7 linked regions of the Homo sapiens genome follow. The protein of the gene in region 5 purifies or fractionates together with the protein of the main gene of each other region. This does not show direct contact. Each region holds a gene or a part of one and is shown on either strand. Other genes may lie near its edges.

Evidence for each region.
Region 1: the proteins of MYLK2 (region 5) and AHSG purify together in Homo sapiens (affinity purification with mass spectrometry; one large-scale study listed by BioGRID and IntAct). This does not show direct contact.
Region 2: the proteins of MYLK2 (region 5) and NAT10 purify together in Homo sapiens (affinity purification with mass spectrometry; one large-scale study listed by BioGRID and IntAct). This does not show direct contact.
Region 3: the proteins of MYLK2 (region 5) and HTR7 purify together in Homo sapiens (tandem affinity purification; one large-scale study listed by IntAct). This does not show direct contact.
Region 4: the proteins of MYLK2 (region 5) and UQCRH purify together in Homo sapiens (affinity purification with mass spectrometry; one large-scale study listed by BioGRID and IntAct). This does not show direct contact.
Region 6: the proteins of MYLK2 (region 5) and SAFB purify together in Homo sapiens (affinity purification with mass spectrometry; one large-scale study listed by BioGRID and IntAct). This does not show direct contact.
Region 7: the proteins of MYLK2 (region 5) and WDR43 purify together in Homo sapiens (affinity purification with mass spectrometry; one large-scale study listed by BioGRID and IntAct). This does not show direct contact.

What each region holds. Positions count from the first base shown.
Region 1 is NC_000003.12:186,618,599-186,622,257, reverse strand, and holds the end of AHSG (alpha-2-HS-glycoprotein isoform 2 preproprotein), read right to left. Parts: coding exon 3,621-3,659; intron 2,402-3,620; coding exon 2,318-2,401; intron 1,673-2,317; coding exon 1,328-1,672; 3' UTR 940-1,327; downstream 1-939. UniProt on the Homo sapiens protein: Promotes endocytosis, possesses opsonic properties and influences the mineral phase of bone. Shows affinity for calcium and barium ions.
Region 2 is NC_000011.10:34,129,277-34,133,555, reverse strand, and holds part of NAT10 (RNA cytidine acetyltransferase), read right to left. Parts: intron 2,744-4,279; coding exon 2,619-2,743; intron 2,176-2,618; coding exon 2,025-2,175; intron 1,432-2,024; coding exon 1,335-1,431; intron 531-1,334; coding exon 414-530; intron 1-413. UniProt on the Homo sapiens protein: RNA cytidine acetyltransferase that catalyzes the formation of N(4)-acetylcytidine (ac4C) modification on mRNAs, 18S rRNA and tRNAs.
Region 3 is NC_000010.11:90,742,425-90,746,703, forward strand, and holds part of HTR7 (5-hydroxytryptamine receptor 7), read right to left. Parts: intron 1,267-4,279; coding exon 1,169-1,266; intron 105-1,168; coding exon 58-104; 3' UTR 1-57. UniProt on the Homo sapiens protein: G-protein coupled receptor for 5-hydroxytryptamine (serotonin), a biogenic hormone that functions as a neurotransmitter, a hormone and a mitogen.
Region 4 is NC_000001.11:46,309,980-46,314,258, reverse strand, and holds part of UQCRH (cytochrome b-c1 complex subunit 6, mitochondrial isoform 1 precursor), read right to left. Parts: exon of another isoform or gene 4,278-4,279; coding exon of another isoform or gene 4,215-4,277; intron 4,105-4,214; coding exon 3,943-4,104; intron 1-3,942. UniProt on the Homo sapiens protein: Component of the ubiquinol-cytochrome c oxidoreductase, a multisubunit transmembrane complex that is part of the mitochondrial electron transport chain which drives oxidative phosphorylation.
Region 5 is NC_000020.11:31,832,083-31,835,776, reverse strand, and holds the end of MYLK2 (myosin light chain kinase 2, skeletal/cardiac muscle), read right to left. Parts: coding exon 3,641-3,694; intron 2,061-3,640; coding exon 1,980-2,060; 3' UTR 1,093-1,979; downstream 1-1,092. UniProt on the Homo sapiens protein: Implicated in the level of global muscle contraction and cardiac function. Phosphorylates a specific serine in the N-terminus of a myosin light chain.
Region 6 is NC_000019.10:5,629,020-5,633,298, reverse strand, and holds part of SAFB (scaffold attachment factor B1), read right to left. Parts: intron 1-4,279. UniProt on the Homo sapiens protein: Binds to scaffold/matrix attachment region (S/MAR) DNA and forms a molecular assembly point to allow the formation of a 'transcriptosomal' complex (consisting of SR proteins and RNA polymerase II) coupling transcription and RNA processing.
Region 7 is NC_000002.12:28,939,414-28,943,692, reverse strand, and holds part of WDR43 (WD repeat-containing protein 43), read right to left. Parts: intron 2,233-4,279; coding exon 2,119-2,232; intron 1,382-2,118; coding exon 1,312-1,381; intron 1-1,311. UniProt on the Homo sapiens protein: Ribosome biogenesis factor that coordinates hyperactive transcription and ribogenesis. Part of the small subunit (SSU) processome, first precursor of the small eukaryotic ribosomal subunit.

The sequences.
Region 1 (3,659 bases), on a different chromosome or scaffold from region 5:
CGGAAAAACTTAATGCTGATGGACAAAAATTGAAATTGCCCAGGGACCATGCTAAAATGGGGAGGGTTTATTCACATATGCTATCTGAGCACTTGGACGGTGTCTACAAATGTCCACGGGATTCACCTGTCCAGGCATCCTTTATCTAATGATACTACAAGTCACAGCTTTAACTTGGGTCCTTAAAATAGATTGGCTAGGAAGACCAATCTTGTGTTATAAAATGAAGTGTATACAGTACACTCAACGTATATCTTAAACATAATTAACAACAGATATAAAGTGAGGATCTTGTTTTAATTACCAATCCCTCCTTACCTCGGTACTGGAGAAAATCAATGGATAGTTTATTCTGTACAAAGTTCAGGAGCTTGGCCCACCTTTAGCAATATTTTCTCTCTCTTATAAAATGAGAAGAATTATTTTCTCATAAAGAAATGGTCATATCTTGGCCAGGTGCGGTGGCTCACGCCTGTAATCCCAGCACTTTGGGAGGCCGAGGTGGGTGGATCATGAGTTGAGGAGATCAAGACCATCCTGGCCAACATGGTGAAACCCTGTCTCCACTAAAATAAAAAAAATTAGCTGGGTGTGGTGGCACGCACCTGTAGTCCCAGCTACTCAGGGGGCTGAGGCAGGGGAATCATTTGAATTTGGGAGGTGGAGCTTGCAGTGAGCCAAGATCATGCCACTGCGCTCCAGCCTGGGTGACAGAGTAAGACTCCGTCTCAGAAAAAAAAAAAAAAAGAAATGGTCACATCTTATGGGTTGTGGAAAGATCCTAGTCTCACTTTTTCCTGTATCTGGCAATACAGCAGGTTTTTGTTCTCTTTTGGTTCTCTTTTCACTTTGATTTTGATTAGGGACACTGTGTTTGTTGGGGTAAAAGGCTATGCATGTGAGGGGAGCTGGGATGAAGTCGCAATAAGCATGACCACATTCAGCTTAGAACCTTCTTTATTAAGGAAGGTCTTTCAGGCACTTTCATTAACAGGCACATATAAGCTTAGCAAGAGCACCTTTCAAAGTCACAGTTCCAATGGTTTTTGTAAGGTCAACCAGAGGCAGAGAACACAATCATGGTGGCTTACCGTCAAAATCATGACAAGTTGTCAACCTAATGCCTTCTGTCAAACATAACCACCACCCACTCTGCTTCTGTCCTGTGAGGAATGACGGGAAGTAGGGAGTCAAGACTTGATATTAATGTAGATCGCATGTGACACTTGCGTGGCCAGCAGACAAGGCCCCCCACCCATGCCCAGGCTTGGACAAAATGGTGGCTATGTTTTCTGTGCCAAACCTCCTCATCTCTGCCATGTCTAGCCTAGACCTTGAAGTGTCTGATCCTCCCCGGACATGGAGGAACCACTGGCCCAGCAGCAGCACCAACACTAGGCTGCACCACTGTGCGTGTTTTCCGGGGGTGCGACACTTCTCCTGAGGGTGACCCCAATGAGACCACACCCATGAAGGTGTGGCGCAGGTCGTAGTGCGCCCGGTGCAACTGGTGTCCTGGAGGAGCTGCCAGTAACACATGGGAGTCTGGGGGTGAGCCAGCTGGAGGGAGTCCAGGTGCGCCAAGTGGAGGGGACGGAGGTGCATCTGGGTCCACCACGGGTGTGGGGACTGCTTCATTGGCACCTTCTGGTTGGGGCTGTGAGCTCACGGGCTGGAAAAAGGACCATTTCCTTCAGTTAGTTTGCTTCCTCCTCCCAGGCAAGACAACCCACAGGCCCAGGTGGCACTGGCACCCAATTTCCTCACATTATACATTTTTATTTGCAAAGAGTCTAGCAAGAAAGGACCTACCCAAGTACAAGGGATTGTCATCAAGGTTACAAGGAGGGGTGACTGGCCTATGTTGGCCCCGGCCTCACTAGGATTGTCTTTGTGATGGTGGACTTACACGCATATGTCCAATGAGTAAAAGCACCCCACCTATGGCTCACCCTTGCCCAGCAGTGCCACCCTCTTTGTCATCTGAAGCTGCAGCCACTGGGAGCTAACAGGTAGATCTGGCCACCTGGTCTCTGCAACTCAGAAAACCACTCCCACCTCCCACAAATAAAAAGGTGGCTTTGTCAACTACACAGTAAGATGGTTCTTCCCTGTAGTCACTAGTTCGTGGGAGGGAAAGGCATAGCTAAAATATCCTTCCATTTGTTGATGATTCCGCATACCCCAGTGTTATTTCATACTGTGAGATTCAGAAGCACAGGAGAGCAAATGTCCTGTCATCACTACTGCACTGCATAAATGTGAAGGGGTCATTGTATTCTGAAGGTGTAGGCAAGAATATTCACGGAGCTGTTACCTGTGTTTGGAACACCATGCAGGTCACTGCAACCTCTGCCCCACCAAGCTTCTCACTGAGTGTTGCCTTACAAAAGCCATATTGCTGCCCACAGAGAAAGAGGATTTATTTTAACTAATTTCAAAAATGGATCCCCCCCAATTTCATTGACGCGCCAACCTTAAATTAGTTTGAAAAACCATTTTTCTTAAAGTTATAGTTTCTGCTTGTGGGAGGTATATGATTCTATATATAACATGGAAATACAGAAATACTTTGAGAGTGAGAGAGATTACCCATAATCCCTTTCTGGTGGTGGCCTAGAAAGAAGGACTGTTAACATTGATGCATTTCTTTCTTATTTTAAAATACTATTAAATATGATTTAAAAATTGAGATCATTGTGACTATACGATGTTGTATCCTGTGTGTTTTCACTTGCCATAATAGCATTTTCTCATATCATTCATTATTCCTTGAAAACACAATTTTTAGTGTCTGCACAATTTTCTATTTACTGATGTGCATGGATTATTCAATGACACCTTCCTGTTGGACATACAGATCTCTCTTTTTTGGTCTCTTTATATCCATAATAAATCATTTTTATAGATATATTCTGTCAAATGTCACTGATGAATTCTTTTTCTTTTTCTTTTTTTCTTGAGACAGAGTCTCGTTCTGTTGCCCAGGCTGGAGTGCAGTGGCACGATCTTAGTTTACTGCAACATCTGCCTCCTGGGTTCACACCATTCTCCTGCCTCAGCCTCCCGAGTAGCTGGGACTACAGGCGCTCACCACCAAGCCTGGCTAATTTTTTTGTATTTTTAGTAGAGACGGGGTTTCACCATGTTAGCCAGGATGGTCTCGATCTCCTGACCTCCCGATCCACCCGTCTTGGCCTCCCAAAGTGCTGGAATTACAGGCATGAGCCATCATGCCTGGCCACTGATGACTTCTTTAGACTAAAATCCTAGAAGTGTACATTATTGGCTCAAGGACTTGAAAGCTTTTGTATCAGAGTTATATGTCTAGAAAATGTGCACTTCACATTCCCAGTGGGTGGGCGTGACTTGGCTTCATTAGCAAATAGCCTCTCTCTTTCTCCTAACTTCATGTGCTTCCAGTGGGTGAGATGATTTGATGACAGCTCTTAAAGGGATGAGGTGACACCCTAAAAGAAGGCTTGCCGTGATCCACAGGGAGAGGGGATTTGCACTGTTATTCTCTGTCTGCAGCCCCAAGATACAAACTATCCAAGGATGTTCTGTTCCACAAACAGCTCTGTCCGAGTGGTAACACCCCAAGGTCCCGGCCCACTCACCTTTTCTGCCAGCAGGTTACACTTGGCTGCCTCTGTGGC
Region 2 (4,279 bases), on a different chromosome or scaffold from region 5:
ATTACTATGTATATGAAAAGGAAAAGTGATATAGAAATGCATAAATACATCCATGCTAGGCATTAAAAATTTGTTCCCCAATCTGTAGCCTCTAATTCAAAATGCACCATGTATTGCTTTTGTAATAAAGGGAGAAAACAAACAAGTCTGTTTGTGGAAGAAGCTGTGAGTCAAAATAAGAGAGCGGTCGGTTCTGGCTTTTCCCCGTCCGTCAACAGTGGAGCTTTGGGTGTCTAGTGGCGCTAACCTCTTCCAGTGCACCCTAGTCACCTGTCTCAGCAGACCCAGCCCCTTGGTTCCAGACCAGGACTCCACAGTTTCAAAACTCCCACAATGCAGTTATTAAGCCACTAATTCCTGATGCCTCAGTGGTTCCCCAAATCACTGCCACAAGGACGCCTCTGCTCCTATACCTGGATAACAGCAAGCACTTCTGGAAGGGCATTCTGGGTGGGGGGCACGGGAGGCAGAAGGCAGAAGAGATGGTGAGCAGGTGCATCGGAGAGCATCTGGAGATCATTGGGAGAGTTCTGTGGAAGCCAAACACGGGTCAGTGAGAAGCACTCTTCCTCTTGCCCTTTACGCAAAAGGTTCGATTCAGAACCACAGGATGACTGCAGTATGGCCTTCTCCAAAGCCAAGTGAGGAGCAGAAGTCCAGCAAAGCACCTTTCTAGTATTTTGGCAAGCCTGAGACTCTTCATAACAGGTTAAGTGGAACTTAGCCTCAAATGCCTACTGTCCTCTCACCCCGAGCACTGAGGCTGGACAGAAGAAGAGAATTTATTTAGCACTACTTATTTCACAGCTAGGAAGTGAACTTTTTACAGATAAGAGGCTGCTATTTCAGGAAAAACTGTCACCACTTCTAACACCAACTCTTCAAGCCTTCCATTAAAAGCTGTTCATAAAAATACTATCTAGACATTCAAAAAGTATCCTTTTTAACCAACCCTTTTGTTTTTAAGAGTCTCAGATATTCTAAACCCTCAAATTCACTGTTCCATAAAAGTAGCCCAGAGCTATAAAGCTGGTCTCAGGTCAAACTGCACCACCGGGCCACAACTGCAATGTCACCTCATCCTATCAGTTTAGTAGGCAGGCAAGAAATGAAAGCACTCCTTTAAAAATGGACACAGCTTTCCACCCTGTCCCGTTACTGCATGGAGCTACATGCTCTATACCTACACACAGCAAGATCAGTGGAACTCATCAATGTCCCAATGGAACAGTCACCTAAGCCATTGGGTAATAAAATATGCAAATCAAGTAAAAGGGGACTGCCAAATGCTGAAGCTCCCTGCTACCATTCACACAAGGGCTAGCTGCAGTTACCTTGTAGTGAGAAGCCACGTAGAGGGCCATAAGCCGTTGGAGGAAAACTTCAGAGGCCTTGTGGTAGCAAAAGAGGGTATCTCTATTAACATAGTACCTGGGTCTGGAGTTAAGAAACCAAAACAAAACAAATAGCCGAAGACAGGTCATACTACTCTCTGGAGGCAGAACAAATTTCCGTAGCTGGGAACAGGAGCTCAGTGTCCTAAGCAGAAACACATAAAAGAAGGAAGAAGAGGGCCAGGCGCGTTGGCTCACACCGGTAATCCCAGCACTTTGGGAGGCTGAGGCAGGCAGATCACAAGGTCAGGAGTTTGAGACCAGCCTGACCAACATGGTGAAACCCTGTCTCTACTAAAAATACAAAAATTAGCCAGACGTGGTGGCTGGCACCTGTAATCCCAGCTACTCAAGAGGCTGAGGCAGGAGAATCACTTGAACCCGGGAGGCAGAGGTTGCAGTGAGCTGAGATTGTGCCACTGCACTCTAGCCTGGTGACAGAGCGAGACTCCATCTCAAAAAAAAAAAAAAGAAAGAAAAAAAAAAAAGGAAGAGAAAAAGGAAATTGAAAATGTTCAACTTTCCCCTTTCTCTAGAGCAGCATCCTATGAAACAAAGGACTCAAGTCCTTTGAATTCTTTCACCGCCCCTCTCCTTTTCACAGGGCCAGTGAAACCCAGAGGAGGATACAGTTCACAAGCTTCAGGCAAGGGGCAGCCTGAGACTATCCGAGTGATGTTGAGGCAATCCAGGCACAGCAAGTCATTCAGCCACTTCTCCACTGCATCCCCAGGGGCGTATCGGATTGACTCCTGGAGGGAAACCTCATACAGTGTCCGCGCTGCTCCCCACAATCACACACACAAAAGAAGAAACAATGATTAAATATGTATTGTCTAAAAAAGCAAGGAAAAATGTTTCACTTTATATTTGTCCCATGGTGGCCAGAGACGTGTGGTAAGAATTTAAACTGGGTGGTTTAAAATTGTTTTTGGTGGATATTCAACTTGCCACGATACCAACCCCAAAGGGATCTCAATGCAACCATGCCCTGAGACAAGGACACACAAGGGCCCCACCATCAGAAGGCCCTAGTCTGGCTCCCATCTGGTCACTGGACTGCTGTTCCTCCGAAAAAAGCTACTTCTCCTCTTGGGGACTCAACCTCTCAGCCTGATGGTGGGAAGGTTTGGTGCTTCCCATGATGTCACAGGGGAAGCGAGGATCAGTAAGACTGAAGGGCCTTGCTGTGAACCGCGGGACCCGGGTCAGGTTCTGGGGTACCTGATGCCAATCTGGCTGTCGTCGTGGTCTTATTCTCAGCAGTGGTGCTGACCTGGCTCTGGGCGCTCTGTTGACGGAGCTGCTGAATTAGCTTGAGGGACAGTGACCGGCCAGTGCCCTCATAGCTAGAAACAAAGGCAAAAGGAATCAGGCACAAGGTCCCAAATCCACTGTCTAGGAGGGGACAGAGAGCTGCTTTCCTCCACCTGCTGAAACACCAGACCCCTGCTTCCCCCAGGACAGCCTTGCTCATCTCTGAACTTCCAGCATAGCAGGCACCTGTCCAAAGGAGGCAGGGTGGCACGGTGGCTGAGCTTGGGGCCACCCAGGCCTGGGCTCACGTCCTGGCTCATCTACTTAGTATCTTTGGGCAAGGAGCTGAATCTCTTTTCGCCTCATCTTCAAGAGGGGATTATTCTATACACCTCACAGGACTGTGATGTGAACTTAAAAAATAAGGACTGGAAAAAGGATGTAAGTAAAGCCTTTAGCATAAAGGCTTTAGGCAGTTTTAGTGAAGCTGGAACAAAGTTAAATGGTCAACTAACGGAGCTGCTTTTAGAAGTACGGTGCATAAGGAAATGAACTGAGAACATTTCCAGTTTGGAAAATAAAACAAATCCACCACCTCAGTAATTCTTTTCATTGCTATGCCCACTTATAAGGTGACATAAAATAGCTAAAAAATGTTGAGAAAAAAATTAAATCACCTATAATCTGATAACTCAATCAGCTTTCATTGTTGAGTTTTCTTCTCCTTGTCTTTAGTCACAGGCATATGTCACCACAGGGTACACACAGCACTTTTCATTACATCATTTCATAGTACTCATTATTATATTCAAAGACTGTAAAATACTTCCTCTTACTCAAATAATGATAAAAGCTAGATGTTTTATGCCCACTCTCCACACCACATAACAAAGCTCTCCCAAAAGTATCCTATTTATTTATTTAAGAAAAAAGAGTAAGCACAAGCAACAAAACTTCAAAACTTTTGTCGTTAAAAGACATTATTATAAAGAAAGTGGCCGGGCATGGTGGCTCATACCTATAATCCCAGCACTTTGGGAGGCCGAGGCGGGTAGATCACCTGAGGTCAGGAGTTTGAGACCAGCCTGACAAACATGGTGAAACCCCGTCTCCACTAAAAATACAAAAGTTAGCCAGGCATGGTGGTACACACCTGTAATCCCAGCTACTCAAGAGGCTGAGGCAGGAGAAATGGGTTGAACCTGGGAGGTGAAGGTTGCAGTGAGCCAAGATTACACCACTGCACTCCAGCCTTGGCGACAGAGTCAGAGTCTGTCTCAAAAAAAAAAAAAAAAAAAAAAAAAAGAAGAAGAAGAAGAAAGTGAAAAAACCCATAGAATGTGAGAAAATTTTTGTAAATCATATCTGAAAAGGGACCTGGTATCAAGAATATATAAAGAACCCTTACAAATCATTAATAAAAAAGACAACCCAATTGGAGAGATGAACAGAGGATACGAATACACATTTCTCCAAAGAACATACGTGAGTGGCCAATACGCACATGTAAAGATGCTAATATCATTAGTCACCAGGAAATGCAAATGAGAATTATAACGAGAGGTCACTTCACACCTATTAGAATGGTTATAACCACAAAGATACATAATAAGTGTGTGAGAGGATAC
Region 3 (4,279 bases), on a different chromosome or scaffold from region 5:
TTCCTTCTGTTTCCACCTCTATTTTGCCTTGTTTATTTCATCTCCATTGTTCTGCTTTCAATCATGAATCATGACCTTTTTTTCTACAGTAGTCAGCATTTTGTCTAAAAAAAAGAGAGAGAAAAATAGAAAATAATTTAGTAGAACTGTAAATGTGAGTTTTCATTTTGTGGTAGGTGGACTTAATTTTTACAGCAGTCAGTAATTTGAATCATTTGTGGCTTTTAAGGGATTATGAGTATCCTTCAAGGGAAAGAAAAAGTGTTGTGACTCTTTTCATAAATTTCATAACTTCCACAAGTTGCCAAGGCTTTAATATATTTGCAAATCAGCCCCAAATAACCCATTTAGAAATTCACCTTTTTAATACAGCTATAGCAAAAAATGACTTTGCTCTCAAAAATCCTTGCAAAATACTATTGCACCTGCCCCACTTGAAAAGAATAATGACTAAATAATGATTACCAATGAGACGTGCTCTCTCCCTCAAACCTAGGAAGGTGTGTTATTGTAAGGTATGTGTGTAGGGACCAAGAAACTTCACTTCTCTCCCTCGTTCCTAGATGCTCAGAAGTGGCATTAGTGATAGAGAAGTGTCAGCCAAGGGCTGAGAAAAAGTCCCTTTCTCCTGGTGTAAAGCCACTCCCCTGACTCTGCACCTCCACAGGCCTCAACTTACCACACTACATCATGTGCCTAAGAGCTAGGTCTATGAGGACCCAGAGACTGGGACTGTGCCCCTAATCTCCACCTACCCACCCCATCTAAAGCACCCCCTACCCTGCCATTTGGCTGTCTTGCCTGCAGTCCTGCTCTTCCTTCTTTGAGGTCCCCCTCTCAGCCCAGCCCTTCAGATGGGTGATCAATAGATGGATTTTGCTGGAGACATGGTTTCTAGCTTTTCCCCTCAGCCTCACACAATAACACCTGAGGACAAGTACTGCACTTCAGCCCAGACTCAGCACTCTAGGCTCCACGTATCTGAAGAGGGGACTGGCAACCATCTGTGCTCCACAGACACATTCCTAGCCCAGGGCCACTGTCTCTTCCCAGCACAGGAGAGACAGTGCTTTCTCCAGCTCAGCACGGCTCTGCTCACATAGTTCATGTTCTGAATTCCTCCAGACCACAGCACTATCTCCAAAGTCTCCCTTTCCTTGCTACCCACCTGCTAACCAATTGTGATGGTCTGGAGATTGTAGCACCCACACAGATACCGGTGGCCTCTTTTCTGGTCTCAACAGCACCCTCCTTGTGCAGGCCCTCCTGCAATTTATGGCAATTCAAAGCAAATCCATAAGTAAATCAAATTTTAAAAGAAAAAAAGAATCCTTGATTATATTTCATTATCATATTTGGTTTTATATTACCAATCTGTGAATACTTGTGAAAAGGATTAAAATTGATAGCAGTAAATTAAAATTACCAGTGCAAAAGTATTCACAGCTTTTCCTCCATCTATTCACTTCATTACCCCAGGGAAAATTTTCGAGTGCCTGATGAACTCCTGAGGTTCTGGTTATGCTGATCAAGAAAATGGGGAGAAATGGGTAAATATTTGGGAGTAGGAACAGTCTTACAGGTTTGTACAGGAAAGAAAGAAACTATTATGTAGGAGAATACGTAGAGCCAAGAAGGCAGAGCAAGGCGAAAAGGTAAGAGAGACTAGAAGCCCAGAAGCTAGATGGGAGGAAAAGAGCTGGAGAAAGCCCTGAGTCTGGAGGAGTCCAGAATCTGCACGGTGGCCACAAGATGAGTGAGAGCTAGAGAGAGGCAGGGGGAGCAAAGGGTTCTGATTACAAGTCTCCTACTAGCCACCACCACCTCTGCAGCCACCCCAGCACACTAGATTAAAAGCTTCCAGAGACTTCAACTGTCCCTTACTCATCTTTCTACCCTACCATGCCTGGTTCCATGCTTTGTACATAGCAGACCCTCAAATGTTTCTGGGAAAAACAAGCCAATGAAGAGACTCCTTACATCCATTTTCTACATTTGGAGTTATCCACACAGTGCTACTGCATCAGTCTTGACCATTTTGATGACTCCATTCCCCTACTTGCAGATTCACTGATCCTACTTGCAGATTCACTGATGGCTTACTACTACAGAGTGTCCCACATTTAGCATTAAGGATTAGGTACTTCTTTGTTGGGGGGTGGGCGGGGGGTTGCTGGCCTGTATACTGTAAAATCCTTAAGAGCAGCCCTGGCCTCTACCCAGTAGATGCCAGTAGTGTGCCACCCAGACTTGTGACAACCAAAAATCCCTCCAGAAATGGCCAAATGGCTACAGAGAGTTGGGATGGGAGGCAAAATTACTCCTGATTAAGAACCATTTGTCAATATTAAAAGTCCAAATTCTTGGAGCTAGCATAGAAGAGCCTTTATAATTTCATCTCAATCTACTTTTCTGCTTTGATCTCTAACAGTTCCTGCACCCAAATGCTTAGCTTCAGCCAGATGGTCCTTTGTATAAGCTCCCACATTGGTGCCTTTACAAAAAAAGTCCTCTTCACCTAGAATACCATTTCTGCTCTCCTTTCACTATAAATGCTTTGACCAACTTCATAGACATGCTTGAGTTCATATCCTTCAGGAAGTCTTCTCTGATTAGGGTTAGTGTAAGCTCTGAGTTATTTTCCTTTCCTTTGAATCCCATAGTTTTTCCTGTCTCCACCTTTCCTTATTACAGAAAGGTTGCCATGTGCATATGTCTTAGCCTAGCCAGGCTGCTATAACAAAATCCCATAAATTGGTAGCTTATAAACAACAGAAATTTATTTCTTATAGTTTGAGAGGCTGAGAAATCCAAGATTAAGCCACCAATAGATTCCATGTCTGGTGAGGGCTCGCTGTCTGCTTCATAGATGGTAACTTCTAGCTGCTTCCTTACATGGTAGAAGGTATGAACAAGCTCCCTCAGGCCTCTTTTATAAGGGCAATAATCCCATTCATGAGGGCCCTGCCCCCATGACCTAATTACCTCCTAAAGAATCCACATTTTCATAGTATTGCATTGGGAATTTGGTTTCAAAATATGAATTTTGCAGGAGACACAAACATTCAGGCCATAGCAACATATGTCTGTTTGTGTAAGGTATATCCAACAAAATTATGTGCATAAGGACATGAAAGATATCATCTGTTTTCTGTATCTTCCTCAATGCATGGCAGCCATATTAGAAATTTCCTAAAGTTGATGGATATTTTTAGGCTAATCGTCCTTAATGAAGTAGATATTCTGTAATTATAAATTCAAACTGAGAGAAATGCAAAGAAGATACAGCAGACTATGGCCTGTTGGCCAAATACAACTGGCAGCCCCTTTTTGTAAATAAAGTTTTATTGGTACACGGGCCTATCTGTTTACTTATGTCAGTGACAAATTACTCATCAGTGAGATGAGTAGTTTCAATAGAGACCATATGGCTAGCAAAGCTTAAAATATTTACCACTTGGCCCTTCACAGTTAAAGTTTGCTGACCTCTGTCTTAAGCTTACAGGAAAACAACACCCAAGCCTCCAGACTAGCTAAAGATACAAAGGCAAATATCTTTAGACTTTATGTTAGCTGATTTATTTTTATAAAAGGCACAGTAGCATAGAAGTTAAAAGCACTTTTGAACACAGATGTCCTGGGCTCAAATCCAGCTCTATCACTCTCTATATGACTGTGGGGGAAATCATTTGACTTCTCCACGCCCTTGTTTTGTTATTTTCAGAATGGAAATGAAGAAAACTAACCTATCATAAACTTTTGAGGATTAATTGATCAAATTCACATAAAGTGCTCAGCAAAGTGTCTGAGAGTGAATCCTCAGCAAACGCATGTTATTATTTTAAACTGGAAAACCTTTTTGTGCTACATTTTAAAGATTACCATTTTATGATCTATCTGAATTATCTATGAATCATTAACTAAAATAATCAATAAAATGATTCTCAAGTTTTTTGACCCTATGGATGCATGCAAATATAGCAGTGTTTCCTTGCTCATGACTTTATCTGTTCTTTCCTACTTTATACACTGGCTGCTTAACTGGATCCCCTGCCACCCATCTTTCCCTTGTCTGCCCTCCTCACTATTGCCAGAGAGACCTTCCCATGTTACTCCTGAGAACTAAAACCAACACGCTTTCCTTTTCCTGTGCTAAAAAATGCTGCAGCCAGGCAAAATAACCTAGCTATTTGTTCTAGGAAATAGTCACTTTCAGAAGACTATATGCCAACAAAAATAGCCTACTTATCAAGACTAGTTTGCTCATTAACACTCACTT
Region 4 (4,279 bases), on a different chromosome or scaffold from region 5:
AAGTAGCTGGTTCTACAAGCACCCGCCACCATGCCCGGCTAATCTTTTGTATTTTGAGACAGGGTTTTACCGTGTTAGCCAGGATAGTCTCAATCTCCTGACCTTGTGATCCGCCTGCCTTGGCCTCCCAAAGTGTTGGGATTACAGGCATGAGCCACCGTGCCCCGGCCCCCTTCTCTTTTAAGGCTGAATAATATCCCATTGTATATACAAAGCACATTTTAAAAAAATCTTTGCATCTATGGATGGAAAATTGGGTTGTTTCTACCTTTTGGCTATTGTGAATATGAATGTGGAAATATCTGTTTAAGCCTACTCTCAATACTTCTGGGTATATACCTAGAAGTGAAATTGCTAGATCATATAGTACATAATTCTATGTTTAATTTTTGAGAAAAGAACTTGTTTTTTTTTTTTTGAGACAGGGTCTCAGTCTGTCACCCAGGCTGGAGTGCAGTGGCGTGATCATGGCTCACTGAAGCCTTGACTTCCCCAGGCTCAGGTGATCCTCCCACCTCAGCCTCCCAAGTAGCTAGGACTACAGGTGTGAGCCAGCTTGCCTGGTTATCTATATCTATCTATCTATCTATCTATCTATCTATCTATCTATCTATCTGTCTATATTTTTTTGAGATGAAGTCTCGCTCTGTCGCCCAGGCTGGAGTGCAGTGGCACAATCTCAGCTCACTGCAAGCTCCGCCTCCCGGGTTCACGCCATTCTCCAGCCTCAGCCTCCCAAGTAGCTGGGACTACAGGCGCCCGCCACCACGCCCGGCTAATTTTTTTGTATTTTTAGTAGAGATGGGGTTTCACCATATTGGCCAGGCTGGTCTCGATCTCCTGACCTCATGATCCACCCGCCTCCGCCTCCCAAAGGGCTGGGATTACAGGCGTGAGCCACCGCGCCCGGCTTTTATATATATATTTTTTGTAAAGACAGGGTTTTACCATGTTGCCCAGGCTGGTCTCAAATTCCTGGGCTCAGGTGATCTGCCTGCCTTGACCTCGCAAAGTTCTGCGATTACAAGCATGAGCCACAGTGCCCAGCCTAGCTGATGGACACTTATGTTGTTTCCACTTTTTGGGTAGTATAAATAATGCTTCTATGAACATTTGTGTACAAGTTTTTATGTGAACATATGTTTTCATTTCTCTTGGGTATATATCTTCGAGTGTAATTGCTGTGTCATATATTAACTGTATATTTAGCCTTTTGAGGAACTGCCAGATGTTTTCCACAGTGGCTGTACCAATTTACACTTTTACTGACAGCGTATGAGGTTTCCAACTTTTCCACATTGTCGTCAACACTCGTTATCTTCTTTATTATAGCCATCCTAGTGGGCAGTTGGTATAAAGTGTTATCTCATGGTAGTATCCCTGGTGGCTAATGATGTTGAACATCTTTTCATACGTTTACTGGCCATCCAATTAGTTTTAATAGAAGCAACCACATCAAACTTTGCTTATGTATAATTTATGTAAAATACCTTACTGTGTTATATGTAAGAGTCAAGCAGAAGTTTATTTTTATTTTTTTAATTTTGATTTTTTAAAAGTAGAGACAGGGTTCCCCTATCTTGCCCAGGCTGGTCTTAAACTCCTGGGGTCAAGGGGTCCTCCTGCCTTGGTCTTCCAAAAGTGCTAGGATCATAAGCGTCAGCCACTATGCCCTGCCTGAGTTTACTTTTAAAAAACAACCCCTTGAGGCCAGGCATGGTATCTCACACCTGTAATCCCAACACTCTGGGAAGCTGAGATGAGTGGCATGTGTGAACCCAGGAGTTCTAGACCAGCCTGGGCAACACGGCAAAATCCCATCTCTACAAAAAATACAAAAATTACCCAGGTATGGGCCAGGTGCGGTGGCTCACGCCTGTAATCTCAGCACTTTGGAAGGCTGAGGCAGGTGGATCACTGGAGGTCAGGAGTTCAAGACCAGCCTGGCCAACATGGTGAAACCCCGTCTCTACTAAAAATACAAACAAACAAAAAATTAGCTGGGTGTGGTGGCGTGCACCTTTAATCCCAGTTACTTGGGAGGCTGAAGCAGGAAAATCGCTTGAACCCAGGAGGTGGAGGTTGCAGTGAGCCAAGATTGCGCCACTGCACTCCAGCCTGGGTGACAGAGTGCAACTCAGTCTCAAATTAAAAAAAAAAAAAATTACCAAGGCATGGTGGCATGTGCCTATAGTCCTGGCTACTCAGAGGCTAAGGCAGAAGGATTGTTTGAACCAGGAGGTAGAGGCTGTAGTGTGCCATAATTGTGCCACTGCACTCCAGCCTGGGTGACAGAGCAAGCAAGACCTTATCTCAAAAAAAAAAAAAAAGGCTGGGTGCAGTGGTTCACACCTGTAATCCCAGAACTTTGGAAGGCTGAGGCAGGTGGATCACAGGGGTCAGGAGACTGAGACCATCTTGGCTAACACAGTGAAACCCCGTCTCTACTAAAAATACAAAAAAACAAAAACAAACAAACAAAAAAAAACAAAAAAACCATTAGCCGGGAATGGTGGCGGGCGCCTGCGGTCCCAGCTACTCGGGAGGCAGAGGCAAGAGAATGGCGTGAAGCCGGGAGGTGGAGCTTGCAGTGAGCCGAGATCGCGCCACTGCACTCCAGCCTGGGCGACAGACCAAGACTCCGTCTCAAAAAAAAAAGCAACCTTTTGGACCAACTACTATATATTAGACACATTTGAGGATACAAATTATTTTTTTTTTGGCGCAACCTTGGCTCACTGCAAGCTCCGCCTCCTGGGTTGACGCCATTCTCCTGCCTCAGGCTCCCGAGTAGCTGGGGGCTACAGGCGCCCGCCACCACGCCCGGCTAATTTTTTGTACTTTAGTAGGGACGGGTTTCGCTGTGTTAGCCAAGATGGTCTCAATCTCCTGACCTCGTGATCCGCCCGCCTCCGCCTCCGCCTCCGCCTCCGCCTCCCAAAGTGCTGGGATTACAGGCGTGAGCCACCGCGCCCGGCCAATACAAATTATTTTTAAAGAACAGTCTGTTATTGAAAAGTACAAAATCCAGCTTCCCCACTGTTTAGTGGTGCATGTTGGGATGTTTATGTTTTTTTCTCTGAGCCTCAGTTTCTATCTGTGAAATGGGATAATGATACCTATCTCCAGTGGAAGTAGTAAGGATTAGGCAAGATTATTATTATTATTATTTTTTTTTTTTTTTGAGATGGAGTCTCGCTCTGTCGCCCAGGCCAGACTGCGGACTGCAGTGGCGCAATCTCGGCTCACTGCAAGCTCCGCTTCCCCGGGTTCACGCCATTCTCCTGCCTCAGCCTCCCGAGTAGCTGGGACTACAGGCGCCCGCCACCGCGCCCAGCTAATTTTTTGTATTTTTAGTAGAGACGGGGTTTCACCTTGTTAGCCAGGATGGTCTCGATCTCCTGACCTCATGATCCACCCGCCTCGGCCTCCCAAAGTGCTGGGATTACAGGCATGAGCCACCGCGCCCTAGGCAAGATTATTTATAGGCCAGGCACAATGGCTCATGCCTATAATCCCAGCACTTCAGAGGGCCGAGATGGAAGGAAGGATTGCTTGAGCCCAGGAGTTTGAGACCAGCCTGGGCAACATAACAAGGCCCCGTCACTAGAAAAAATTAAAAAATAAAAAATTAGCCTCTCATGGTGGCATGCACTTGTAGTCCCAGCTACTTGGGAGGCCAAGGCAGGATCACTTAGGCCCAGGAGTTCAAGGTTGGCACTGAGCTACGATCATGCCGCTGTACTTCAGCCTGGACAACATAGTGAGACCCTCTCAATAAAATAGAATAGGTTATTTACATAAAATGCTCAGCGCACCATATGTCACATATATTGGGCCCAGAGTAACTGATGGGCCTTTCCCTAGCATGGAAAGATTGTTGGCACCAAGTCTTCCCTGACCATTGCAACCTTTCCCCTTCCTGACTTCCCACTGACTTACGCAATGGTCCCTCGCATGCAAGAAGTCAAAGAGCTCCTCCGTGCAATCCTCTTCTGTATGTGATCGAGAGGATACACGCTCATCACAGAGCTCTAGCCGCTCCCGGGCCTTTACACATTTCTCCAACTGCTCGCATTGCTCTCTCACTGTTGTTAGGGGATCCTGATGTAGAAACAGAAAAAAAACAAAATGGGCATTTTTAGCAGAGACCCACCAAACACATATGCTTTGATTAACACAACCACCAAACCAAGGTGCTGCCTCTGAATTACCGTGCAGAAGGCCAGCTGGCAGAGCCACACTGCCGCCAGAAATGGCAGAATGCGGTCTCCCATTC
Region 5 (3,694 bases):
CAGCCGGCAGGTGCTCGATGCATGTTAACTGCTGTCTCTGCTCTTCCTGCTGGAACCTCTCTGTTCCCACAGGCCAGTCCCACTTCTCAGTCGTCCTCACAGCCAGAAAGGCTGCACTGTATCAGGGCTCAGCTCTCTTGCCCTCTGGGCTGCCCCCAGATGGAGCCTCCCCTGCCCCTCACTGCTGGCTTGTGGTGAGGTGGCCGTGGCCACTGGGAAAAATCAGAGAACAGTCCTCTCCCCTGAGGCCCTCATTGTAGACCCAGCAAAGGCATCGCAGGCCTGCCAGACCTGGCCTCCACCTGGAGACCGGACTCTCTGCTTACACCCTGTCCTGGTGAGAGGCAGAGGGAACGCATGGGCACATCCTTGCTCTGGGAGACAGAAAAGCTCCTTTCAAGCCCCAGTCCCTGACTTGTTGAGTGGCATTCAAGTTCCTTCTCTCCTCTGAGCCTCAGTTTCTTCATATGTGGAGTAAGGATAAGAACATTATCGTTCCCTGGGCCGAGCACAGCCCTAAGTGCCTTACCTCAGTCTGACTGATGCTGCAGCCATGGCCCCACCCTATGAGGTAGATCCTAGCGCTGCCCACTCTCTCTGGCTCAGTTTCTCCCTCTGTAAAACAGGAATAATAATACCTGCCTCATGAGAATCACCTGAAGCCGGGAGGCGGAGGTTGCGTGCAGTGAGCATAGATCACACCACTGTACTCCAGCCTGGACGACAGAGTGAGACTCCATCATAAATCAATCAATCAACCAATCAATCCTGCCTCGTAACTTTGCTGTGAGGAGTAAATGAGTTAACACAGCACAGGCGCTTTAAGTAAAGCTGGGCACGCAGTAATCACACACCCGGTGTAGGCTGTTGCTGCGACCTCCCTCTCACAGGTGAGGATACTGAGGCACAACGTGCAGAAGCCACCTGCCCACATCATGTGCTGGGCAGACTGGCACCTGAGCCTGCATGAACCACCAAACTGTGAGCTGACGGATATTGCTAAAGTGTCCGGTACACAGTAGGTGCTCAGTGAACTGTGGTCATCAGCGACCTCACACCAGTGCAGGCACACACAGAGGGAAGGAGGCCACATCCAACCTGTACATTTATTTACAAGGCACAAGCTGAGAGCAGACTGGAGGCTGCCCCATGGCCTTCCTAATTCTCCTGGGCCTGCTGACCCCATCATCTGAGGCCATGGGTGACCCCCAAGATGGGGGCCCCGAGTGGTTGGGTTGGGCCGGCTTGGCCCTGAGGCAAGCTCGGGGGTGGTCTCCTGTGTCCCTTGGCTTCTCCCCTCCCCCTCCACCAGGCCTGGGCTGGGCGCCCTCTCTCTCACACAGAGTTCCTGTGTGTTGGTGGTCGCAAGGAAGGTGGGTGGGGGCCAGCCTGGGCCAGATGGTGTGGGCTCGGCCTTATCTGCTGGAGTGGGGAGGTGGCGGGGGCATGGAGGTCCTCTCTCACAAAGCCTGCTCTGTCTTCCCTGGCAGCTGGGCCTTAGGAATCAGCGTTGCAGCCTTTCTGCCCCACCAGGAGCCTCCCATCCACAACCACAGAAGCCCTACATGCTGAGACCCCCCAGCCATGGCACTCCAGCTAGGAGGAGGCCCAGGCTAAGGACTCTCCCAGTGGGGCAAAGCAGGGGTCACCACGGCGGCGGCAGTTCAAAGACGAGGAGCTGGGGAGGGAACCGGGAGCGGCTTCAACGGGGGCCTGGAGTCTGGGGTGTGGCCGACAGGCTGGAGCCCTGTCTGGGGAGGTGCTAGCAGGATGGATCCAGGCCACACTCCGAGGCGGCTCACATCGGGGAAGCGGTCACTGCATGGGGGCGTGGGGAGCCCCGAGCCTCCCAGCCTGGCACAGCCTTGTCCTAACGAGGCTGCCCTGGGGATCTGGCTGCCTTTTCTGGCCTTCTGGGCTGTGTGGCTTCAGCCCCGGCCACTGTGTGGCTGCGTCCAGGCTTCAGCTGCGCCCAGGGCTCAGACCCCCAGAGCCATCAGTGCCCCCGAGCTGCTGATCTTCTTGAAGCGGTTGGCAGCGCTGACAGCAATGAAGTTTTTCTAGAGGGCAGAAGAGAGGGAGTCCCAGTCAACACCAGGGCAGGGGGGCAGCTGCAGGGTGTCTGAGCAGCCTGTAAGTCCCCTTCAGTCCAGGAGGGTCACAGGCTAGAGAAGGTGCAGTGCCCAAAATGGCCACGGGAGGCGCCATGACACTGTATTGTCCAGGAGTCCCCTCACTCAACGGATAGGTCAGCCAGACCTGAACCAAGGACCGCTCTGCTCCAAACACTCCCATGGCTCCAGTTTTGCTCCAAGTAAAAGATAAACCCCTTGCCATGGCCGATGAGTCCCTCCAACTCCTGTCCCCCTCTTCCTCTCTAACTTCATTCCTTACCTCCTTGCTCACTCCACTCCATCCATACTGGCCTCCTACCTGTTCCTCAAACTCTCCAACCACACCTCTGCCTCAGGGCCTTTGCACTGGCTACTCCCTCTGCCCGGAATACTCTTCTCCCAGTATTGGCACGGCTCACCCCTCCCCACCTTCAGGTCTTTGTTCACATGCTTCTCAGTGAGCCCTTCCTGACCCCCCCTATTTAGAAGTGCAGGCTGGGCACAGTGGCTCACACCTGTAATCCCAACACTTCGAGAGGCCAAGGCGGGAGGATTGCTTGCCTGAGCAACATGGCGAGACCTCATCTCCACAAAAATATTTTTAAAATATTAACTGGATGTGGTGGCATATGTCTGTGGTCCCAGCTATTCAGGAGGCCAAAGGAGAGGATCACTTGAGCCCAGAAGGTCAAGACTACAGTGAGCCATGATAGCGCCACTGCACTCCAGCTGGGGAGGCAGAGTGAGACCCTGTCTCTAAAAAAAATAAAAATAAAAGTGCAACCTCTCCCCGGCAGAAGGCCCTTATTTTTTTTCTAAAGTCTTCTTTAACCCTGCCTATTTCCACAGGGCTCTAGAAAATGCCCCACCTCAGCCAGGCACAGTGGCTCACGCCTGTAATCCCAGCACTTTGGGAGGCGGAGGCAGGTGGATCACGAGGTCAGGAGTTCAAGACCAGCCTGGCCAACATGGTGAAACCCCGTCTCCACTAAAAATACAAAAATTAGCCAGGTGTGATGGTGGGTGCCTGTAATCCCAGCTACTTGGAAGGCTGAGGCAGGAGAATTGCTTGAACCTGGGAGGCAGAGGTTGCAGTGGGCCGAGATCACGCCATTGTACCCCAGCCTGGGTGACAGAGCAAGACTGTATTGAAAGAAAGAAAAAAAGATAGAAAATGCCCCATCTCTCACCAAAAGTAACTCCACAAAGACTGAGATCTTTGTCTCTTTTGTCCACTCCTATATCCCAATGCCTAGAAGTAGTAGATGCTCAAGAAATATTTGAAAAATGAAGGAGGGAAGCCAGAGCCCCAGATGGGTGGGGCTGGGTGGAAGGCCGGGTAGAGGTCTCCACTCTAGGACAGGAGCCAGCCCAGGGCAAAAACAGAAAAGTCAACCCTGTCTTCCGGACAGGGCCCAGCCTGGTCAACAGAACCTGCCAAGGCAGGGACGGTGGAGGCTGGGATCTGGCACCAGGAGCTCTTCCCACTAGCAAGCCCTCCCTCCCCACCCTGAATCCAGCGGTACCTTCCAGCGCCTCTTCATGAGGTATTTCTTAAGCAAGATCTGGGACTTAAGGCG
Region 6 (4,279 bases), on a different chromosome or scaffold from region 5:
CGTTTTGCACATTGTAGTAAATAAGCATAAAGGCTTTCAACCTATGGAATAAAATAATCTAAGTTCACACAGATAAATGAGGGCAAAGGGCAAGCTATTCCTTATGTCAGTAAACCAAGTAATAAACAAACAATAACAAAATTAAAAAATCACCATTTGGCAACTACCAGAATAAATGAATAGACAGGAACTGGTGGTTGCTAAAACTAATGGACGATGAGCAGGATATTTACAAAGTCTCAGAGTATCTTCCCCACAAATGTAACTGTGAAAAGGAAGACAGTAACTTTCCAGTGGAGAAACCTGGCCAATAGCATTTGAAGTCAGCTAACATGGCCAATAATGGCTCAAACTGACAGCATGTGCCTCTGGATAGTATACTCTGATGACAATATAGGCTGGGCGTGGTGGCTCATGTCTGTAATCCCAACTCTTTGGGAGGCCAAGGTGGGAGGATCGCTTGAGCACAGCAATTCAGGGTTGCAGTGACCTACAATTGCACCATTGCACTCTGGCCTGGGTAACAGGGCAAGACCCGGTTTCAAACCAAAACAAAACAAAAAACAGGAATACAACATGTCTGGTGTATTTCTGACAAGCGTATAACTTGATCCTTATTATGGGGCGGGGAGAACCCAAAACAATTCAAATAGAAAAATAAACTACAAAATAAGTGTAAGTGTTCAAGATTAAAGAAAACTAAGGAAACATGACAACCTGATGCAATGCATGACTCTGGACATTTTTTGTCTGAGTTATAGAGAATATTATTGGAACAAACTACTGAATCTAAATGAGGACTAAGACGAGGTGGCAGTATTGTATCAATGTTAATTTCCTGATCTGGACATCTACAGTTAGGTAATATCCTTACTTTACTGCAGTACGTAGGGCAAAGGGGCATATGCGCCTTGCAACTTACCATGCGGTCTAGTAAAAACATACATACAAGGAGAGAAAAGGACAAGGCAAATGTAGTCAGATGGCAATATTTGGGGACTCTGGGTAAAGGGTATATGGGAATTCCTTGCATTATTCTTGCAACTTAAGTATGAAATTGCCAAAATGAACAAAAACTGAACAAAACAAGCCAGCAGCAAAGGATTGGGTAATACTTAACCAAGCAAACAGGCCAACTTTGCATCTCCAGTTACAAAACATTCTCAAACACCATAAAACATCCTATTAATTTGTACTTTGTGATGACACTACAAATAAATTTAGTTTCCTGGTAATTATTTTATTTTTTCGAGACAGAGTCTTGCCCTGTTACCAGGTTGGAGAGCAATCACAGCCCAATCATGGTTCACTGCAACCTCAAATTCCTGGACTCACGTGATCCTCCCACCTCAGTCTCCTGAGTAGCTGGGACTACAGATGCACGCCATCACATCTGACTAATTTTTCTAATTTTTTGGAGAGATGGGGTCTCACTATGTCACCCAGGCTGCTCTCCAACTCCTGGGCTCAAGTCATCCTTCCGCGTCGGTGTCCCAAACTGTTGGGCTTACAGACGAGAGCCATCTCGCACAGCCCCTGATAATTATTTTGAGAGTCTGCTAAGATGGTGAGAGTCACGTCATGTGGAATGTGACTTTTGCTGTATAAGCAGTTTTTAAAAAAAATGTTAAAGTGACAATTCTGTTTTGGCCAAGTGCTGTTTAAAAGGGATGTCATTTTCTCCAAGTCCAAGCAATAGGAGGAGAACTGAGATTACATGAGATATGCTTTCTGGAATTTTAAAGCATTTTGAATTCACACATTACAGCAGTCCCTCTATTTTCAGTTAAAATCTTGATAAAACCCACTGATAAAGTAGTTGAAAATAATTCAAGAAAACTTACCGACCTGCCCTATCAGATATCAAAATGTACTGTAAATTTCTAGAATAAAACTGATTACAAGAAGCAAAACAAAACAACAAATGAGACACAAAAGAGCTAGTATTGCATGGCTCCATTTTACATGAAGTTCTAGAATGGGTAAAACTAATATCTGGTGAAGTAATCACAACAGCGACTTTTATTTTTGCAGGGGCTGGGAGGGGAGACGCACTGGGAGGGGCAGAAGTGATCTTTCTGATGACAAATGTTTCTTTTCTTTTTTTTTGAGACACAGTCTTGCACTGTTGCCCAGGCTGGAGTGCAGCAGCATGATCTCAGCTCACTGCAACCTCCGCCTCCCAGGCTCAAGTGATTCTCCTGCCTCAGTCTCCCGAGTAGCTGGGATTACAGGCATCCGCCACCATGCCCAGCTAATTTTTGTATTTTTAGTAGACGGGGTTTCACCATGTTGGCCAGGCTGGTCTCGAACTCCTGACCTCAGGTGATCTGCCCGCCTCAGCCTCCCAAAGTGCTGGGATTACAGGCATGAGCCACCACGCCCAGCCTAAATGTTTCATGTTTTCATCCCTACCTACCTCACACCACATGCAAAATACATTCTAAATTAATTAAACCTCCAAATGTAAAATGTAAAAATAAAACCATAAATATTATTCTTTCTATATATAACAGAGTTATACATATAGTTTTTTTTTTTTTTGAGACGAAGCTTCACTCGTCGCCCAGGCTGGAGTGCAGTGGCGTGATCTCGGCTCACTGCAACCTCTGCTTCCCGGGTTCAAGCGATTTTCCTGCCTCAGCCTCTCAAGTAGCTAGGATTACAGGCGCTTGCCACCACACCCAGATAATTTTTGTATTTTTAGTAGAGACAGGGTTTCACCATGTTGGCCAGGCTGGTGTTGAACTCCTGACCTCAGGTGATCCACCTGCATCGTGGGATTACGGACGTGTGCCACCGCACCTGGCCTTACAGTCATATTTTTAATAATTTAAAAGCAAAGAAGTCCTTTTAAAGCGTAACATAAAATCTAGAAGCCTAGTGATCAAAATACCACAAGTCGAATCAGATTAAATTGAATGACAGATTAAAACAATAGAAACATTTTATATGAGTCTTTATAACTCAATAAGACAAACAACCCAGCACAGAAATCGGCAAAGGGCATGAAAAGGCCATTCAGACGACACAAATGTCCAATTATCAGAAGAGTATAATCTGTGAAGAAATGCAAACGAAAATCTCACCTGCAGAAAAATGCAGATAAATACAATGAAATACTTTTCTTCTATATAACAGGCAACAAGGTAACAGGCAAACAAGGTAAGTTTGATGTTGAGTTTAGTGAAATAGGCACCGTCACCCATTGTTGGTAGGGTACAACCTGGGACAGCTTTTTGTTTTTGTTTTTGTTTTTGAGACAGCCTCACTCTGTCGCCAAGGCTGGAGTGCAGTGGCACTATCTTGGCTCAATGCAACCTCAGTCTCCCAGGTTCAAGCTATCTTCTTGCCTTAGCCACCTGAGTAGCTTGGATTACAGGCGCCCACCACCACACCTGGCAAATTTCTGTATTTTTAGTAGACGTGGGGTTTTGCCATGTTGGCCAGGCTGATCTTTTGATCCGCCCACCTCAGCCTCCCAAAGTGCTAGGATTACAGGCGTGAGCCACTGAACTTGGCCGGGACAGCTATTTGTAAACTAGCTATGTGAAAATAAAGGGCCATATCCTTGGAGTCTAGAATTCTCCTTTCACTAAGTTATCAAAAATTATATTACTTTGACCACACAAAGGTATTTATCTCTGGTTCGTGCAAACACTGAATGTTGGAAGTACCGAGTGATAATTGGAAATAAAAATCTCCAAACGTCTAGTAATAAAAAGACTGATGGGCTAAATTGTGTATTTATTCATACAGAAGATTATTAGCCTGTTAAAAAACAGTGAGATTTTGTATAGCAAGATCACGGGTTTTTTTAATGAAAAAAATATGCATACAGGTGTGTGCACATACCTATATATTTACTTTTTTCCCCCTCTCACTCTGTGCCCAAGCTGGAGTGTAGAAGCACACTCATGGCTCACCGCAGCCTTGACCTCTTGGGCTTAAGCAATCCTCCTACCTTGGCCTCCCTAGTAGCTGGGACTACAGGTGTGTGCCACCATGCCCAGCTCATTGACTTTTATTTAACTTTTTGTTTTTCTAGACACAGGGTCTTGCTCTGTAACCCAGGCCTAAGTTTACTTTTAAACATTGTACATACACACACAGTCTGGAGAAGTATGCCTAACTTTTAGTAGTGGGCTGTCCCGACTGTGAACAACTTCTGCTTTTTACTCCCATGCACGTATTTTAAAACCTGCCGGGCGCAGTGGCTCACAACTGAAATCTAAACGTTTTGTGGGGCTGAGGTGAAAGCACTGCTTGAGGCCAGGAG
Region 7 (4,279 bases), on a different chromosome or scaffold from region 5:
ACAATACACACCATCAATAAACACACCAAGAGTCCACAGAACTACGGGTTTTTCAGGGGTAGCTATTGCCAATCTATTGGTCTAGCTGTCTATTATTGCACATTAACTCTGTAACCCTACACTTCTATAATCAATTTGCTACTCAGGGTATTTGAGGATGATCTAAAATGTTCCCTTTTTGACATTTCCAGGTTTTGTTATCAAGATTATACTTGGCTCATAAAATGACTAAATTGCCAGTACATGACAAAAAGGACAGCCCAGTGTTGTGGGTCATGCTTCTATTCCCAGCACTTTGGGAAGCTGACGCGAGAAGACCGTTTTTGAGGCCACGGTGTACAAGATCAGCTTGGGCAACAAAGAGACCTCATCTCTACCTTTAAAAAAAGAAAATTGGCCAGGCATGGTGGCTCAACAGTCCCAGCTACTCTAGAGGCTGAAGCAGGATGATCGCTTGAGTGTAAGAGTTTGAGGCTGCAGTGAGCTATGATTGACCTCGAGCCACTGCACTCCAGCCTGAGCAACAGAGAGAGTCTGTGCAAAAAAGAAAAGAAAAGATTTGTTCTTTGAAGGCCTGATCAAATAACCTTCAAAATATCTGGGCATATCTTGTGAGAAGTTTTATAAAGTCAATTTTAGAGCTACTGGCTTTTTCAAACTTTTTATTTCTTTTAAAGTCAATTTTGGTCATTAATGTTTCCTTAAAAATTAACTATACCACCTAGACTTTTAAATGTATTTACACTAAGTTTGTTCATATAATGTTCTTCTATTTAAATATTTTCCATACCTGGCCAGGCATGGTGGCTCACACCTGTAATCCAAGCACATTGGGATCACTTGAGCCCAGGAGTTTGAGACCATCCTGGGCAACATAGTGAAACTCTGTCTTTACAAAAAAATACCAAAGTTGGCCGGGCATGGTGGTGCACGCCTGTAGTCCCAGCTACTCAGGAGGCTGAGACAGGAAGATTGCATTGAGCCCAGGAGGTTGAGGCTGCAGCAAGCTGTGATCACAGCACTGCACTACAACCTAGGCAACAGACTGAGACTGTCTTAAAAAAAAAAAAAAAGAAAAGAAAAAAAAAATCTTCCATAACTAATGCCCTTTTTTGTCACTGTATTATACTTGTGCCTTTTCTTTTCTTATCTGATGAATTACAGATTTTTGCCACGGACTTGCCTATTTTAATTAGAGAAGGCTTGCCAAAGGAAGATCTTATGTTGACGTTTTCAAAAAGATAACAGAACTCAGTCACTGAAAACTGAATGTTATAATTCTAGACTCCATCCCATTCCCCCAGTCTTTACCTTCTTCATACACCAACTTTGCCTTCTGTCCAGGGGAAGTTGCTCCCTTTGTCTTCTCTGATGCTGTTACCTGGAAGAAGATAAAGTACTGTTCTGAAGTAGAGTGTAAACATATCCCAAGTATCACGACCACCAGCATACCCAACCTTCCCCACTGCTTGCTGCTAACTCACCCTCCACCACCATAATGGAGGACCTTCATACAATACAGAGCAAAAAAGTCCTTCAAATACAAGAGGGAAAGAATTACTCTGTAAAGCTGAAAAACTCTGAGGTGATTAGAATATCTTTCTGTGCCAAAATTTTAACTGTATAAATATCCTATAACTTACTAACTGTATAACAACTGAAACACAATGGTGAGAAAAAGATTTGAGTAAAAGTTGAAACAGACACAACTAAACTTTCTTACTGTCAAACTGATAAGCTTTCCAAGTTAAAGACTAGATCCTGATTTACCAATTTCTTACTGAAACAGGGAGCTCTCAGCCAGGCGTGGTGGGTCACGCCTGTAATTCCAGCACTTTGGGAGGTCAAGGTGGTAGGATCCCTTGAGCCTAGGAGTTCAAAACCAGCCTAGGCAATGCCATCTCTACGAAAATTTAAAAATTAGCCAGGCATGGTGGTGCATCCGTGTAGTCCCAGCTACTTGGGAGGCACTTGAGCGAGGCTGCAGTGAGCTATGATCATGCTACCGCAGTGCAGCCTGAGCGACAGAGCAAGACCCTGTCTCAAAATGATCCTTATTCCTCTCTCCATTCCTACCATGTCCAAAAGTTTTAGCCCAGAACAATATGATTTACTCACTTGTGTAATTAGAAGAATAAGCTTTCCATGAAGGTGTGAAAGTTTCTGAAAAGTTTTGACTCTGCTTTCCATTAACTGGTAGAGTGTCCCCAGCTGGGGTACCAGGTCAGGCAACTAGAGAAAAAAATGATCATTTGGCACTATTAACGTATTAGAGATGACGAACACGCAAATCATGCTCAGCTATGCCTCAGTATTTAGCCACTGCACCACACACATCTGCTTACAAGTACTCCCAGTGGCAGTGGCTACCTGCAACATAGCCTAACAACATCACGAATTTTCACAGAAGACCCTCAATGTCCTAGGAGGAAAAAATAATAGGCTTATAAAAAAAATGATATAAGGGCAAGAGAGTGAAACTGCAAGGTGGCACTTTTCTGTATTGATCAAACTATTTCAGATAAGGCCAATATCCCATATAAAGTAGACAGGAAATTAAAAATGCCTCTACCACGTATCTCCAGGCTAAAGAGGCTTTCCTCTGAATCTTATCCTCTGATGCTAGCATATTATCTACCCTTACTGTAAGGCCCCAAAGAGGCAGAGAAGCCTTTTCCCAGCTCCCAGAGACCAGTAGAACAAAGTACAAAGTTGACCTTTTGCATTTTAAATATACTTCCTGTTAATGAGTCCTCTGAAACATATTTAAAAAATGAAAGTAGGACATTCTCTTTTTTGCTCCCATGTTGCTCTCATCAGAGTCTTTTGTATTGAGAATATAGCTGTTATATTTGGAACACAACACGACTGATAAAGGTCTGGCTCCTCCAGGTTCACTGAGGAATAAAACAATGGTAATTTGCCTTTCTCATAAAATCTTAAAGTCCCCTTGATCATTTTTAACAATATGAAAGGAAACCATGATGGCCATAATTTTTCTATCCTAGATCAACTATAAAAAGCAACTGGAAAAATTTAAATGCCTCTTTTTAAAGGAAGCCATTTGGAAGTCCAGAACAAGCCTCTTCCTGTCCCACTGCCTTCAAATACCTGCCTCTGGTTAATTTTCCTCCCATCTCTGGGCTCTAAGAACAACGCTGGCAGCTGGGCGCGGTGGCTCATGCCTGTAATCCCAGCACTTTGGGAGGCTGAGGCGGGCAGATCACCTGAGGTCAGGGGTTCAAGACCAGCCTGACCAACATGGAGAAACCCCATCTCTACTAAAAACACAAAAATTAGCCAGGCATGGTGGCATGTGCCTGTAATCCCAGCTACTCGGGAGGCTGAGGAAGGAGAATCATTTGAACTCATAAGGCGGAGGTTGCGGTGAGCCAAGATCGTGCCATTGCACTCCAGCCTAGGCAACAAGAGCAAAACTCCGTCTCAAGAAAAAAAAAAAGAAAAAGAACAACGCTGGCTTCCCCACCTCACCCCCTACCCCCGTGATATTCTGATATTCTTTTATCTGTCCCTGTAGCACTACAGAAAAACGGACTCCATTCTTTTTTTTTTTTTTTTTTGAGACGGAGTCTCGCTCTGTCGCCCAGGCTGGAGTGCAGTGCCATGAACTATGCTCACTGCAACCTCTGCCCCCCCGGGTTCACGCCATTCTCCTGCCTCCCTCAGCCTCCCGAGTAGCTGGGACTACAGGCACCTGCCATCACGCTCGGCTAATTTTTTGTATTTTTAGTAGAGACGGGGTTTCACCGTGTTAGAAAGGATGGTCTTGATCTCCTGAACTCATGATCCACCCGCCTCAGCCTCCCAAAGTGCAGGGATTACAGGTGTGAGCCACCGTGCCCAGACTCCACTCCTTACCTCTGATTAGCCTTTACCTGCACTCCTATTTCTAATACTTTAGTAAAAAAGTGTTTCATTCAAATGTTAACTTTAAACAGCAGACAGACACAAAAATTAGTAAAGCAAGGTTTAAGGTCATTGCATTCCAATTTATCACCTCCCTTTTGTGTCCCTGTTCAGACTATGAGCTCCAAGAAGATGGGGACCAGAGTGTTTGGTACATTGCTGAATCCCCATGCCTGGCATAGCCCTTGGCTTACAGAAGGCACTTAAAAATATCAGCAAAGGAAGGAAGAAATGAAGGAAAAGAGCGAGGAAAACCATGGTTTCCTTGATAACTGCTACGGGCTGAGGGGCCCTCCCTATACCATTCTTTCGTCTGTTCTGCCACGACCTTGAATGTTACACCACAACTACT